Linked DNA regions of Homo sapiens: region 2 is linked to region 1. Evidence: fine-mapped expression QTL. Tissue or cell type: fibroblasts. Region 1 holds a variant in brackets; the other region holds the start of a gene. All regions are shown on one strand. Distances are from middle to middle.

What was found. PIP is the estimated chance that this variant, and not a neighbour inherited with it, causes the effect.
Region 2: MMS22L starts here. The variant in region 1 is fine-mapped to the expression of MMS22L in fibroblasts (GTEx, PIP above 0.99).

What each region holds. Positions count from the first base shown.
Region 1 is chr6:97,005,275-97,013,383 of GRCh38, reverse strand. All of the region lies in intron 3 of KLHL32 (kelch like family member 32), which reads right to left. Among named protein-coding and RNA genes, the nearest start is that of KLHL32, 85 kb to the right of the region's middle. The variant C/T (reference allele first, on the strand shown) is at 3,702.
Region 2 is chr6:97,280,006-97,288,095 of GRCh38, reverse strand. MMS22L (MMS22 like, DNA repair protein) reads left to right here and starts at 4,880. Exons shown (of 25, transcript NM_001350599.2): 1 at 4,880-5,000; 2 at 5,543-5,782; 3 at 6,734-6,859. The coding sequence starts at 5,619. RefSeq lists enhancers at 4,604-4,663, 5,044-5,303.

The sequences.
Region 1 (8,109 bases):
TCCATTTTACAACAACGAAACCAAGGCACAAAAACTGAAGTGAGTTTCCTCATATAATGTGGCAACTTAACAATAGAGAGGACATTCTAATAAAAAGTTATTTAACACTAGCTCAGTGCACTTTTCTGATACCAAACTGCTGAAATACACTGGATATTAAAATCTGCATCTTCTATGATGTGCAACTTTACACATATTTTTCTCATAAAGTACAAGGAATGTTATTTCTCACAAGAAAATGTACAATTATTTTAAGAGCATTTACTATATTTCACTTATGTAAAGGCTAGGAGGGGTAAGTATCCTTTTCTCACAAAATTACATGTCATGACATTTCTGCCATTTAAGATTACAAAACTCACTGACCAAACACCATTTAGAGGCACAGAGATCTCTATTATTAACAAGAAAAAGATGAAATTTTGAAAAAGGGCTCTTTTGGACTTAGAGTGCTGAGGAAGGTGCAGTGAAAAATAACCACAACCAAAACAATAACAATAATAATAAAGTTTTCTACATCAAACATGTCAAATCCTTCTGACTCTCTTTTGATATTCTGCTTTGAAATAAAGGAACCCAATTACTTCTTATATGAGAACCCTCATATATAGTTTAATTGCTCTTCAAATCTGAAACCTATGACTGAATTACGTTTCTCAACATTTTCAGGTGGCACTATGAGACCAGGATTACAGAAATGATAGTAAGCAAAGCCACATCTGAAAATTCACAAAAATTATGAAAAATTCACTGCAGCTAGCAACTGTTAAGATGCCTGTATTAGTTTCCTTGCTACTGTGATAGTACCACAAACTTCGTGGTTTAAAACAACACAAATCTATTTTATAGTTCTGGAAGTCAAAAGCCCAAAATGCGTCTCACTGGGCTAAAATCAAGGTGTCAGCAGGGCTGTATTCCTTCTGGAGGCTTTAGGAAGAACTTGTTTCCTTGTCTTTTCCAGCTTACAGAAGTCACTTGTTTCATGGTCTCCTCCTTCAAAGCCAACAATCACATCACTCCAACCTCTGCTTCTGTCCTGACTCCTCTGACTGTGACTCTGCTGACTCTTTCTTCTATCTTTAGGACTTTGTGGTTACATTGGGTCCAGCTACATAATCCAGGATAGTATTGCCACCTCAAGGTCCATCACTTCATTATTACAGGCTCCAGAAATTAGGGCATGGACATCTTTGGCCAGGGGGTCTATTATTTTGCCTACCATAATGCTCAATAGCTAATGGCAGACATGAACAGGGAGTACTCAGTTCCACACAGCTTGGTATAATGGAAAATGGAGGGGGTTTGGAGGCATGTTTGCCTAGGCTAGGGTTTAGACTCTAGCATTCAGCAGTTACGTGATTGATTACAAATTAATTCAATGTTTAGCAAACTTTAATTCATCATCTGTAAAGTTGTTGTAATATCTACATTTAAGGATTATTGGGGGGATTAAACAAAGTAACAAATGTGAATACAACTAGGACTGAGGTTAGCAAACAAATAAAGAAAGATTTTTAATAAACGCCAGTTTACCTTCCTTTCCATGTTTAGGTTTTGCAGCTTGAATAACAATCATTATTTCCTTAGTAAGAAGTGTATTCATTTTCTGGCCTATCCTTGCATCATTAATATCCTTTTCTACTCAGAAGTTTTAAATACTTTTATGTCAGCATGTCCATAAGCAGGAGATAAGTTTGTAATGACTCGGATGCTTAATTTTAATTCAAGATAAATGATCACTCTGAATATGTATCTATTTTTCACACTACAGTGAATTGGGGTTTTAGATGAGTTTATAGAGTTTCTAAAGGTTGTGACAAGAAATTCAACAATTTTATAATTTAATAGTTTTCTTTGCTCTTTTAAAGAGACTTTTCTCATTCATTATGCAAAAAGGCACAAATTTCCTTTTATTATAGCTTTGAGATTCACTCCCACCACACACATACTTGTGATTAGTAATTAATAATTGTCATCACTATTAGAAAACTTGTCTCATTCCAACCATTAGGGCATAATTCACTGGCTTCTCTAGGTGATTTATCACAAAGCTTCTTAAAAGTGACTTTTGCCTAAAATATGAAGATATGGTTCCTATTATTTTCAGCAACCACCTCTTGCAGGATTCAAAGAAGAACATGTCTCCCATTCTTAATAAACAGCAGTTTTGTTAAATGACCTCAAGTGCTAACCTAGTAGAATTTAACGTGAACTTGGCTAGACAAGAGATAAATGACCTAGCAATGATATGATGGCATACATGATAATTCCCTCATGTCCAAACGCTGTCCCTCCTCCCACTACCACTCATGATAAAATAATGGTCCACTGGGAAGCTCTCATTTACCATCTAGAAATAGAACCTTCTTCTGAGCAGGCTGTTAGGTATAGCAGGTGTACGTGTTAAAGATCAGAAAATGCTTCCACACATCCACTGGTATTTGCTTTCCTCTGCTGGACAATCTCCAGTAAAGAATAGTAAACTTGGTACTTCAAATTTCTAATATGCTGTCCAAAATACTCAGTGAAACTAATGATTGTTTTACTACTTAGGAAAAAAAGAAAGCCTAATAAGATACATAAAGGAATGTGCCTTTTATTCTTCTAGGTACTTTTTTATATTCAAAAGTTCTTGATTTCCCAAAAGCCACTATTTCCTTCCCTAGGTAGCAAGATTTGAGGTCATTTGAGGATATTTGTTTTTCAACATTAGGACCAAAATACAACACACAGCAGAATATTAGCAAGTATTTTTTTAGGAAAACACTTTTGTGGTTCCTCACTCATACACACACAAAATTGAGGAAACATGAGGGATAAATTCTTCAATATCTAAAATAACAAGATGATATATAATCAGAAATAGTTAAGGGGAACAATGCACTATATAGGATTCAATTTATAAACTTTTGTAATAATTTAAATGATGCTGATAAATGTTTTAAAAAATATTTGCTACACTTATTATCTGCAAAGTCCAGGGCTGGGTATTCAGCTATGATCTGGGGGAGAGGGAGAGACAGACATATGAACAAGTCCTGACTCTTCTAATACAGCAACCCTGCTCCACCAGCCCTACCAGAGCCAAGCACCACTGCTGCTGCAACTGCTGTCTTACCTCTATACCCATTCTGCTGATCCATTGCTTCTATCACTTTCCACTGATTGATAATCTGCAGTGAACCAGGAGCATGGCATAGAGTGTCCTATAAATATTTTTCTGTATGCTCACTTTTTTTTTTTTTTTTTTTTTTTTTGTCAAATCAGTGCCTGATCCTTTTCCTTACCCTAAGTCTAGGGAAAAACCCAGTAGCTTGTTTGGGCCATTTCAGTTTGTTTATTCTGCCTTCCTCTGTGTGAGGCTAAACAGAAGTCTTCATAGTTCTCCAGGCTGCAGGCTGGAGACATAGAAGCCTCTGTGTGGGGCCCTCTCACTGACAATGCCCCTCAGTCCCCAGAGCTGGTATCAAAGCTTTTTCAAGGGGAATGCAAATTACCTCCCTTCTTGACCTTAATTATAGTGTCTCAAAAACATATAATCTCCACATACATTTTTTAAGACACTAGAATTAAGATTAAGAAGACCCTCACGTGCTTTTTAAACTGCTCTTAAATATGAAACAGTCTGATGCTTTAGTAGGTATGAGCATGAAATACAGGCAGTCTTTCCTTCTACTGTCCAGCAAGATCACATTTCACTT[C/T]CATCAAATAGGGAATTCAAAGTAGTAAACAAATTATGTTCAAAACAGTAAACTAGCGTATGTAACAACAACAACAAAGCATGTACAAATCCTCCCTTTCACAATATACAAAGCAAAGGAACATCTCGCATGCATTTTTCCAGTCCATACACAACTTTCCAAACATTTCAAAGTACATTTATACAAGTGCTCTATTGCAAATTAAAACAGAAGCAACAGCATGGCCAGTAAATCCTAAAGTGTCGATAGTGAAGAGAGTTTTAGGTGCCCAGAGAGCCAATGTGTTTAAAAGATTAAACATTTACATTTGAAAAGCAAAGCCTTGCGAAAAATTATTTCAAAATAAAAGAAACATTTAAATTTAAAATATAGATGAAATTGGTAAAAATTGTCTCTGCTGAATAGCCTTAAAAATACTGTTTCTTAACAGAATTTTGGTTTATAAACCAAAATTCCACTCTATTGTGCTTGAAAACTAGATACCATCACCAATACTAGTAAACCATCAGTTTAACATCTAGTATGTTTCAGACCCTTGGTTTGCAACTGACATTTATCTTATTTAATTTCTACATTAGCCCCATTAAGTGACAACTCACCTGCTTTTACAATTGGAGAAGAATATAAAACTTAATGATATAAAGCCACTTGCCCAAGGATATACACAGCCAGAAAGTATGTGAACAGAGATGTTATAAATTAGACTGGTCTCAGTCTAAAACTATACTGCCCTTCTAATTAATTATCCTATAAAAATGCGGCTGGGGAGCCAAGACGGCCGGCTAAGCACAGCCAGGAGGAACATCTCCCATCAAGAGACAGGGACATAGGGAAGAATGAAATACTCTCTGAGCAGATCTTTGGAGAGAAGGCAATGAGTGGATGGAAGGAAGACATAGAGGCCAGGCTGGAGGGAAAGGATGCTAGGAACCCTGCACAGGGCTGCTGAGCAAAGGGACTCATTCCTGGGCTCCAGCGTCTCCTGGGGAAGGAGTGAGATGAACAGCCAAGGTATGGCCTGCTCTCACCTTGGATCTCCAGAATCCTATCAGCAGGAGACCCCATGACCTCCACAAACACTTACCCTGGCAGGGAGAGCTGCCAGGAGAGGTGGCAGGAGCAGGACTCCAGCCAGTGCACAGCTCAGAGAGTTTGGCATGGGAGTGGCTGCAATGGAGCACAGCCAGGGACACCTACGCTCCTCTAGGAGACATTAGCCTAGGGGTGACTGTCATACCTGGACACAGCAGGGTGGTCTTCCTTGTGAGATGGGGCTAGTCTGATCTGAGCACTACCCTGTCTTCTGGCCTCTCCTAGGGCTCCAGACTGGTTGCACCCACTTGCAGTGCAGCCTCAGATGCCCAAACAGGGTGCTTCCTGGAAAACTTTACCATAGCTCCTTTGCTGGCAGACTGCACCTGACTGTCAGAGAGTTCCAGTGCACTGGAACCGGCTGAAACACACAGGGCTGCCACGGTCTTCCCCCACCACAACCTCCCTCTGCTGGTGCTAGCACACCCTGACACCCAACCCCATGCCACCACCACTGGCACAAATGCCAGACAACCTGTTACCACAGTGCCCTGACCCTGTCATGTCACCACCACCACAACCACCTGCATGAGGAGGTGCAGCAGGAATGCCACTGCCCTGCTTCCACTGGTCCCACATCCCAGGCAATTCACATACACACTGAGCATTGCTGCAATCGCTGGCATGTGCAAGCGAGCACAAATTCCACTGCCAACACCTTGATGAAGTAATTTAGTGGGCAGCCCTCATCGGGGTGTTGTGGACAGCAGACTGGGAACACTTTGGCCCCTCCAGTGCAGCAGGTTCCTAACCTTTAGGGGCCAGAGAACAAAGCTAGGGCCCCACTGCCAGCCCCCCAGAGTTAGAGCACATAGTCCAGGAGTGCTGAGCTGAGCCTTGGCCTCATAAAATCTTCCACAAATGAGGCCAGTTGACTGTACCTACCTTATAGCACAATCAAACTCCCAAGGGTATCAAAGATGAAAAAGCAAAAAACCTCATCCAAAGGACAGCAACCTGAAGACTGAAGAAACATCAGCCCATACACATGAGAAAGAACCAGTGCAAGAACTGTGGCAACTCAGAAAACCAGAGGGTCTTCCTACCTTCAACCAGCCACGCTAGTTTGTCAGCAATGGTTCTTAACCAGGCTGAAATGGCTCAAATGACACATAGAATTCAAAATATGGATAGGAACAAAGATCATCCATATTCAAGAGAAAATCAAAACCCAATCCAAGAGATATAAGAAGTACAATAAAATGAAACAGGAGCGAAAAGATGAAATGGCCACTTTAAGAAATGATCTGGTAAAGCTGAAAAGCTCACTTTAAGGATTACATAATACAATCCTAAGTACTAACGGCAGAAATGATGAAGCCAAAGAAAGAGTCTCAGAACTCGAAGACTACCTCTCCAAAATATTTCAGTCAGACAAAAATAAATAAAAATGAGTAAAAAAGAATGAGCAAAACCTCCAAGAAATATGGGATAATGTAAAGAGACCAAATCTACAATTCATTAGCATCCCTAAAAGAGAGAGAGAAAAAAACAAGCAACTTAGAAAACATATTTAAAGATATCTTTCATGAAAATTTCCCCAACCTTGCTAAAGAGGCCAACACTAAAATTTGGGAAATGTGGAGAACCCCTGTGAGACACTATATGAGATGACCATCCCCAAGACACATAGTCCTCAGATTCCATAAGGTAGATATGAAAGAAAAACTCTTAAAAGCATCTAGAGAGAAGGGGTTGGTCACCTAAAAAGAGATCACCATCAAGCTAACAGTGGACCTTTCACCAGAAACCCTATAAGCAGAAGAGTTTGGGGGCCTATATTCAGCATTCTTAAAGAAAAAAAATCCAACAAAGAATGTCATACCTAACCAAACTAAGTTTCATAAGCAAAGGAGAAATAAGATCCTTTTCAGACAAGCAAATGGTACAGGAATTCATTACCACAAGATCTGCCTTACAAGAAGTCCTTAAAAGAGTGCTAACCATGGAAACAAAGACCATTACTGGTCACCACAAAAACACATTTAAGTATATAGAGCAACTACACAATCAAGTCTGCATAGTAACCAGCTAACAACACGATGACAGGATCAAACCCACACATATCAATATTAACCTTAAATGTAAACAGTATAAATGCCCAAATAAAAGGCACAGAATGTCAACTTGGATAAAGAAGCAAGACCCAACTGTATGCTCGCTTCAAGAGGCCCATCTCACATGCAATAACCCCGATAGGCTCAAAGTAAAGAAATGGAGAAAAATCTGCCAAGCAAACAGAAAACAGAAAAGAGCAGAGCTTTCTATTCTAGTATCAGGCAAAAAAGACTATAAATCAACAACAACAATTTAAAAAGACAAAGAAGAGCATTACCTAATGGTGAAGGACTCACTCAATGAAAAGACCTAACTATCCTAAATATGTATGCACCTAATAGAAGGGCACCCAGCTTCATAAAGCAAGTTCTTACAGACCTATGAAGAGACCTAGATAACTGAACAATAATAATGAGAGGCTTAAACACTCCACTGATAGTATTAGATCATTGAGGGAAAAAACTAACAAAGATATTCAGGACCTATACTCAGCACTTGACCAAATGGAACTAACAGACATCTACTGAACTTGATGCCCCAAAACAAGAGCATATACATTCTTCTCTTCTGTACATACTATACATTCTTCTCTTCTGCACATACCACATACTCTAAAATCAAGCACACATTTAGCCAGAAAACAATCCTCAGAAAATTAAAAAAAATAAAAAACTGAAAATATACCAACCACATTCTCAGAGCACAGTCTGATAGAAAAGACATTAATACTAAGAAAATCTCTCAAAACCACACAATTATATGGAAATTAAACAATCTGTTACAGAATGACTTGGGTAAACAGTGAAATTAAGGCATAAATCAAGAAATTATTTGAAACTAATGAGAATCAATTCACCACATGCCAGAATCTCTGGGACACAGCTAAAGCAGACTGAAGAAGAATGTTTATAGTAATAAATGCCCACATCAAAAAGTTAGAAATATCTCAAATTAACAACCTAATATCACACCTAGAAGAAATAGGAAAAGAACAGCAACCAACTCCCAAAGCTAGCAGAAGACAAGAAATAACCAAAATCAGAGCTGAATCGAATGAAATTGAGATGTGAAAAACCATACAAAAGTTCAACAAATTCAGAAGTTTGCTTTTTGAAAGAATAAATAAGAGAGATAGACCACTACCTAGATTAATAAAGAAAAAAAGAGAGAAGATCTAAAAAAACACAAACAGAAATGACAAAGGAGACATTACCACTGACCCCACAGATATGCAAAATACCCTCAGAGACTATTATGA
Region 2 (8,090 bases), 270 kb before region 1:
AGTCTTAAACTTTAAATAAGATTTCAATTAAAATCATAAACTTTCTGAAACTGAGACCTTTCAATCAGTGGAATATATCATATTAAGTTGAATTTGTGAAAAGTTTCCCTCCTACAAAACATGACATTCATATTAAATTGTTTGACTTTGAGTCTGATACCTGAAAACACAAGAATACATTATTAAATAGATGGTTTGTGGGTATATTTTTTAAAAAGCAGCAAGTTAGAATGGGTTCATTTATTATACAACATTCAAATTCTATCATATGTCCTCCCTGTTTTTTGTTGTTGTTGTTGTTGGTTTTCTATTTATTTATTTATTTTTGAGATGGAGTCTCGCTCTGTCACCCAGTCTGGAGTGCAGTGGCACGATAATGGCTCACTGCAACCTCTGCCTCCCGGGTTCAAGCAATTCTTCTGCCTCAGCCTCCCGAGTAGCTGGGACTACAGGTGTGTGCCTCCACAACTGGCTAATTTTTGTATTTTTAGAAGAGACAGGGTTTCACCATGTTGGCCAGACTGGTCTTGAACTCCTGACCTCAAGTGATTCACCTGCCTTGGCCTCCCAAAGTGCTGGAATTACAGGAATGAGCCACCGTACCTGGCCTGTCCTGCCCTCTTTTACCAAGTAGCTGAATGGTGCTGGAGAAAATGACAAAACCATGATGACTGAACTCTAATTTTTTGTCACAAATCTCAAATGATAACTCAACACTTCCAGACATTCTTATTATCTTTGCCTAGTAAATATACTTTTCTACTCACCAATATGACAATATTGCACCTCTTCTCTAATTTCTAACAACTACTCTTCCTTCTCACTTCCAGTTGATGTGTCATAGAGAAATAGGTGAAATAAAACAAAAACAACTCAACATTCCAACACGTAGTTCACCACCTCCAGCCATCTTATTCTGTATTTTTAAGATTTACTTTTTTTTTTTACTCTTCCTATTAGGATAAAAATTTTTTCTTGAGCCTATCAGAGGTTGATATGTCATTTGTGTAATGAATACTATCCCCTCTCATCTTTTCAATGCCTTTATTCTTGCAATTATTCCCCTTCTGTTCAGCATCTTTTTTCTTTCCATTTAATAACTGCCATAGCCTCGCAAACATGTTCTAACATCTTTTATCTTGAAAATACCATTTCTTGATCCCTATATGTCCCTCTGTCCTATTTTTATGCTTTATTTTCAATTAAATTCCTGGGTAAAGTTTTGATATTTGCTGATTCACCTCCCATTTTCTATATGACCCACTCCTATCAGATGTTTTTCCCCAACTACTCAACTTAAACAGCTTTTATCAACATTAGTAATGACCTATTTCTTGCCAATACCAATGATTAATCTGTTTTCCTTTATTAGCTTACCCATTCTTTCATAAAATACTTCTCTTGGATTTCATGACAGACATCATACCATACCACACACACTTGATTTTTCTTCTGTGGACTAGCCTTATTTCTTGCTTTTCTTTGCTGGCATTTTCTTGATTACTAGCAAGCTGAATATCTAAAAGTTTTTAAGAGTTTTAGCTTTTACATGTAGGTCTATGATCCTTACTGGGTTAAATTTTATAATATGAGGTAGGTTCATTTTTAAGTGTATCAGTATCCAATAGTTCTCTCACTATTTGTTGAAAAGACTATCCTTTCACCATGGAATTACCTTTGCCAAAAAGCAGCTGATCAAACGTGTATGGGGGCCTGTTACTGGAGTCTCTATTCTTTTCCACTGGCTATGTCTACCCTTAGATCAAAATCATACTGTTTTGATTATTGTAACTTAATGGCAAGTCCTGAAATTAGGTACTGGAATTCTTTCAACACTATTCTTACTCAAAATTGTTTCGGTTAATCTAGGCCCTTTGCATTTCCATATCAGTTTTGGAATGCATTTGTCAATTTCTACAAAAGAAAGTTCTCTGGGATTAGGATTTTGATTGGCAGTCCTTTGAAGCCATAGATAAACTTCAGAAGAACTTTTAATAATATTGAGTCTTCCAATTTATGATTATGCTATCTCATTCTATTTACTTGAATATTCTTGAATTTTTTTCAGCAATATTTTGGAATCCTTGGCAAACAAAATCTGACGCATATTTTGTTAAATTTAAACCTTGTTTATGTCATTAAATGGTGTTGTTTTCTAAACTCTAATTTTCAAATTGTCTTTTCATGTCTATAAAATACAATTAATTTTTGTGTGTCACTGAACCCCGCCACCTTGCTGAACTCATAGTTTTTATATATATTTGTAGAGATTTTTTTAGGATTTTCTATATGAATAATTATGTCATCTGAAAATCAAGACAGTTTTACTTCTTCTTATTCAATCTATATGACATTTATTTCTTCATCTTCCTTATTGCATTGACTAGTTACCTCCAGTAAAATGTTGAGAGAAGTGGAAAAAGTGGACATCATTGCCTTTTTCTCAATCTTAGGAAAAGAACATACATTTTTATAACTAAGTATGATATTAATAGCAGGTTTGTCATAGATATCACATATAAGGTAGGGAGTTTTCTTCCATTCTTAGTTGGCAGAGAGTTTTTATCATGAATAGATGTTGAATTTATCAAGTGATCTTTCAGTGTCTATTGAGATGACAGTTTTTCTTTTTATAGACTTGATATAATGAACTGATTACTTGTAGAAATTTGAATAACCTTGCATTCCTAACATGAATCTAATTTTCTTGTCATATGTCATCCTTTTTGTTTGTTTGTTCTGAGGCGGAGTCTTGTTCTGGAGTACAGTGGCGCGATCTCGGCTCACTGCAACCTCCCCATGCCGGGTTCAAGCGATTCTCCTGCCTCAGCCTCCTGTGTAGCTGGGACTACAGGCACATGGCGCCATACCCGGCTAATTTTTGTATTTTTAGTAGAGACGAGGTTTCACCATGTTGGCCAGGCTGGTCTTGAACTCCTGACCTCAAGTGATCCACCCGCCTTGGTCTCCCAAAGTGCTGGGATTACAGGCGTGAGCCACTGCACCTTGCCATCATATGTCATCCTTTTTATGTACTGCTGGATTTTGCTTGCTAACATTTCTGCTTTTATGTTTGCATGTGATATTGTATTGTAATTGTCTTTTGTCAGGTTTCGATACCAGTGTGGTGCTAGCCTCATAAAACAAGCATCCAATCTCCTAATTTCTCTAAGAGTTAGTATAGAATTGGTATTACTCCTTCCTTAAATGTTTGGGAGAATTTAATAGTAAGGCCATTTGGCCTGGAGAGTGTTTGTTTGTTTTGTTGCTTTTGAGAAATGGTGTTGCTCTGTTGTCCAGGCTGGAGTACAATGGCACACTCACAGTTCACTGCAGCCTCGAACTCTCCAGCTCAAGTGATCCTCTCACCTCAGCCTCCCTAAGTAGTTGGGACTACAGATGAGCACCACCACGCCTGGCTAATATTTGTATTTTTTTTGTGGAGACAAGGGACAGGGTTTCACCATGTTGCCCAGGCTGGTCTGGAACTCCTGGTCTCAAGGGATCCACCTACTTCAGCCTCCCAAAGCCACTGTGCCTGCCCTGGCCTGAAGTTTTCTTGTAAGAAGTGGTGTGTGTGTGTGTGTGTGTGTGTGTGTGTGTGTGTGTGTGCAGAGAGAGAGGAGGGAGGCTTAACCAAAGATTCTGAGTACTACGATAAATACAGAGATACTCAAATTTTCTTCTTTTGTTGATTTTTGACAGTTTGCGTCTTTTAAGGAATTTGTCCATTTCACCTATGCTTATTGGCATAAAAATGTTCATAATGTTCTTTTAATATCCTTGTCCTTTTAATGACTAAATTTCATAGTGATGAAACCTTTTTAATTCCTGATACTGATAATTTGTTTATTTTCTTTATCAGTTTGGGTAGGGGGGTTATCAATTATATTGCTCTTTTAGAAAAACAACTTTTGCATGTATTTCCTTCCATTTATTTCATCCCATTTATTTCTACTATTTATCATTTCATTCATTTTGCTTGCTTTGGTTTCAATATGCTGGGGGTTTTTTCTAGTTACTTAAGACAAAAGTTTATTGAATTGAGTTCTTCTTTTTAATGTAAGCAGGTACTGTTACAAATTTTAGTGTTTTCATTTTAATTTAATTCAACGTATTTTCTAATTTTCCTGTGATTTTTCCTGATTCACAGGTTAGTTAGAAGTATGATTCTTAATTTCCAAATATTTAGAGTATTTCAAGTATCTACTTTATTTCTAGTTTAATGCCATTATGATCAGACTATACACTTTGTACGATTTAAATCTTTTTAAAGTTGATGACATTTGTTTTATGGCTCGGAATATGGTATCGCTTAGTGAATGTTTCATGTGCACTTGACAGGAGTGTGTATTCTGCTATTGTTGGGTTGGTCACCTATAAACGTCAATTAGGTCAAGTTGGTTAGTGCTTTCCAAGTTTTCCATATCCATACTAATTTTCTGTCTACTTGTTCCATCTGTTACAGAGAAAATTAATTGTTGCACTTGCCTGCCTCACAGTCCATGGACAAAAGGCATCTGCATTCTAACAAGAGTTGCTGGCCCCAGAGCGGGAAGAGGGGACGGCGCGACTGTGGGTGTGAACGAGGCACTCACTTCGCACTCACTGGAGTAAATATCTTCTCTTTGGTCCGGCCAGAGGATAAACCCATAGTCCTTAAGTCCTCTCCTCCGCCTCAGCAGCAGTTCTGTTTTTTTTTTTTTACCAGGCCCCGCCTTTCAGCCGAACGCACCAATTAAAGGTACAAAAAAAAAAGTTTCTCAGTACCTCGTCCCGGACTGACGGACTCTCGCGAGAATTCGTGGGGCTCCGACTGTTTCCGCGCAGATATCGCGAGGCGATTGGTAGCCGGGGGAGGGCTGCGCCGTGGCCCCGCCTTTCCGGAGCGCGGGCGCGCGGTGGCGGGAATTTCGCCTGTTTGCGGTTTAGACCCCAAAGATTCCTGTTGGTGGTCTGGGTCACAGGAGGCAGGTTTCGGGAGCTGGAAATGTGAGCGGGTACGACAGGCACCGCGGGTAACCGACGCCCCGGGTCCTTGCTGCAGCCGGGTACGCGGGATACCGGCACCCCGCCTTCTCCGCCCGAGTGCTGCCAGGCGTGGGCCTGGTGGGTCTCGCCTCCTCCTTGGAGGGTCGGGGTTGGCCCTAGGGGTTGCTTTCCTAATTTCCACCCCGAGCCGGGGAGGGAGCGTTCTCCACCCTGCTGCTGGGAAACGGGCGGAGAGTGGTTTAGAAACGTTGCGGAGGGCGCAGTTCTAGGCAAGCCCGGGACGCTATGTCCTGCAGACATTTCTTTGCTTTTCACCTTGTCCTGGGCTGCAGAGCCCGACTTAGTGGCCGGATTTCGAGGTCCCTGCCACAGCCAGTTGGTTGTGCATTTTGTCTTAAGTTCTGACAGCCTTGATGGACGGAGGGCGAGGGGGAATTGGGAATTTGGCCTCTGGGTTTGTTCGTTTGTTTTTCCTTCCTGCTGGCGGACGTCTTGAGAACTTTCTGAAGTAATCCCCACTCTCTCGGCCCCACCCCCCCCCCCCCAACAGGAATCTCTTCACACCTTCTCTTTGGAGCCCTTAATGATACGACGAACCCCAAGTGTTTCAGAACATGAAGTAAACAATGGAGAACTGTTCTGCTGCATCGACGTTCCTGACTGACAGCTTAGAGCTGGAGCTGGGGACGGAATGGTGCAAACCTCCTTACTTTTCTTGTGCTGTTGACAACAGAGGAGGAGGAAAACATTTTTCTGGAGAATCCTACCTCTGCAGCGGAGCCCTTAAGCGGTAGGTAAAACTCAGAGACATTTTCCCTCATCTGATTATTCACCAGTTTTTTAGGAATGTTAGTTATTTCAGCCCATTAAACTTTGGTGTTCACCAAGTCGTGTTTTATAAATCAGCTTAGTATATCATAAGGGTACAAATGATTATCAGTTCTGCTGGCTTCTTGGTAAGGGCATATCTAAAGTATTTGGGGTATTAGGGAAAACTTCCTTGGTAACTGATGTTCCCTTACTGTAGGGAGCTGGGCACTAATTTTTCTTCTACTTAAAATGAATTCCTAACTATCTGAGCCTTTTGCAGTAGTATTTCCTTCTAAAGAGTGTGATAATATTCTAGAGCTTTCCAGTAATATTTAAGAGAGACAAACATTTTTTATTGCCCCTGTTCCTTCTAATCCTACCTGCACATATAGAAGTGTATAGACTTATTTTGCCTTGGGCAGGTACATATATATTACAGTAAAACTGTTCTTGAAATATTTTGGTAATACCTGCTGAGGCAGTTTCAGTGAGGAAACTATTTTTGTTGACCTTATAGTTGTACCTTGTTAGAAATCTTAAATAGAATACTCAACTTCATTAGTTGGATACTATTCTCCAGACATGGCTCAGAATAACTGTTAGCAGTTTTAAAATTAAATGTCCCCTCAAAGGATGAAATTCTACAACTGAAGACTACTGGTGAAGACAGGCAGAAATATGTTTTTTAGAATTCTTGTTGATTTTTCCTCTTAAGTTACATTACACTTTAGTCGTACATTTTATCAATATAGAAGATTGACGTTTTAATACAGTCTAGCTATTGTAATCTTGAATGTGTAAAGTACCAAGGCATTTTCTGACTTTTTATACATGTCATGTATAATATGGATTCAAATAATGTAAAGAAAAGAGCCGTCGTATTATGGTACTTAGTATACTTTTTATGAGATTGAAACAATTTTCATTTCAGATTGATTTTGAATCTTGACCCTTTACCAACTAATTTTGAAGAAGATACCTTGGAAATATTTGGCATTCAGTGGGTTACTGAAACAGCATTAGTGAATTCATCTAGAGAACTCTTTCATTTATTCAGGTATTTCTTCGTTATAACTTTCTGTGAGTGTAGGTGTTGTTCACTTTTGTAAATTACGTTGTTGGGTGGCTTCTAATACTGATATTACAAAAGACCAGAGGAATTGTGCTGGTTGCTCACTTGATTATCTTACCAGTAACAATAATCAAGCAGCAATGCCTGATGAGTAATGGTTTTAATGAGTTGCGTTTTCAGAATCTTTATTCTTTGCATTTGACACATGTATTGACAAATATTTAAGGCTTTGAACTATAATTTTTAGAAGAAAATTAAAATATTTTTGTTGTGCAATAGCCATAGTCTTTCAGTGATCTTTAGAGTATGGTCTTAACAAATAAATTGTTTAGACTGTGTAATAGAAATATTAATTATTTGGACAACATTTAAAATTTTTTTAATGAAAAATTTTAAGCATACACAAAATAATAATATAATGAACATCCATATACCCTCCTTCAGTTGCAGTAAACAACAACTTTTTATTACATTTCCTTCATCTGTCTTGTCTCCTCTTCTTTTGGCCTAAGTATTTGTAAGGAAATCCTAGGCATCATGTCGTTTCACCCATAAATACTTCAGTATGAATTTCTTAAAAATATGTGCTTTTTAAAAACGATGAGGACGGCCAGGCGCGGTGGCTCATGCTTGTAATCCCAGCACTTTGGGAGGCCGAGGCGGGAGTTCGAGACCAGCCTGACCAACATGGTGAAGCCCCTTCTGTACTAAAAATACAAAAATTAGCCAGGCGTGATGGCATGCGTCTGTAATCCCAGCTACTCAGGAGGCTGAGGCAGGAGAACTGCTTGAACCCAGGAGGCGGAGGTTGCAGTGATTTGAGATTGCCCACTGTACTCCAGCCTGGGTGACAGAGCGAGACTCTGTCTCAAAAAAAAAACTCATCTCAATTAATAAAAATTAAAGTTCTTCATTATCATTTAAGACACAGTTCATATTCAGATTTTAGGTAATTTTAAACAGGAGTCAGTTATTGAAAGCTAATTATTCCAAAACACAGTAAAAATCTATATGTGATACATTTAAAGGAAAATGGAGAGGTGGAAGGAATTCTCTCACCATCATCCCATGAAACCTTTTGAAGAGACTTAAACTGTATCTACGCCATGTCATACGTTTTATTGATAGAACAGGCTCAGTGAGTGATCCTCTGTAATCCTGAAGATTACAGAATGAGCGAGTCTTTATCTAGGACATAGGTTATAAATATGGGTTA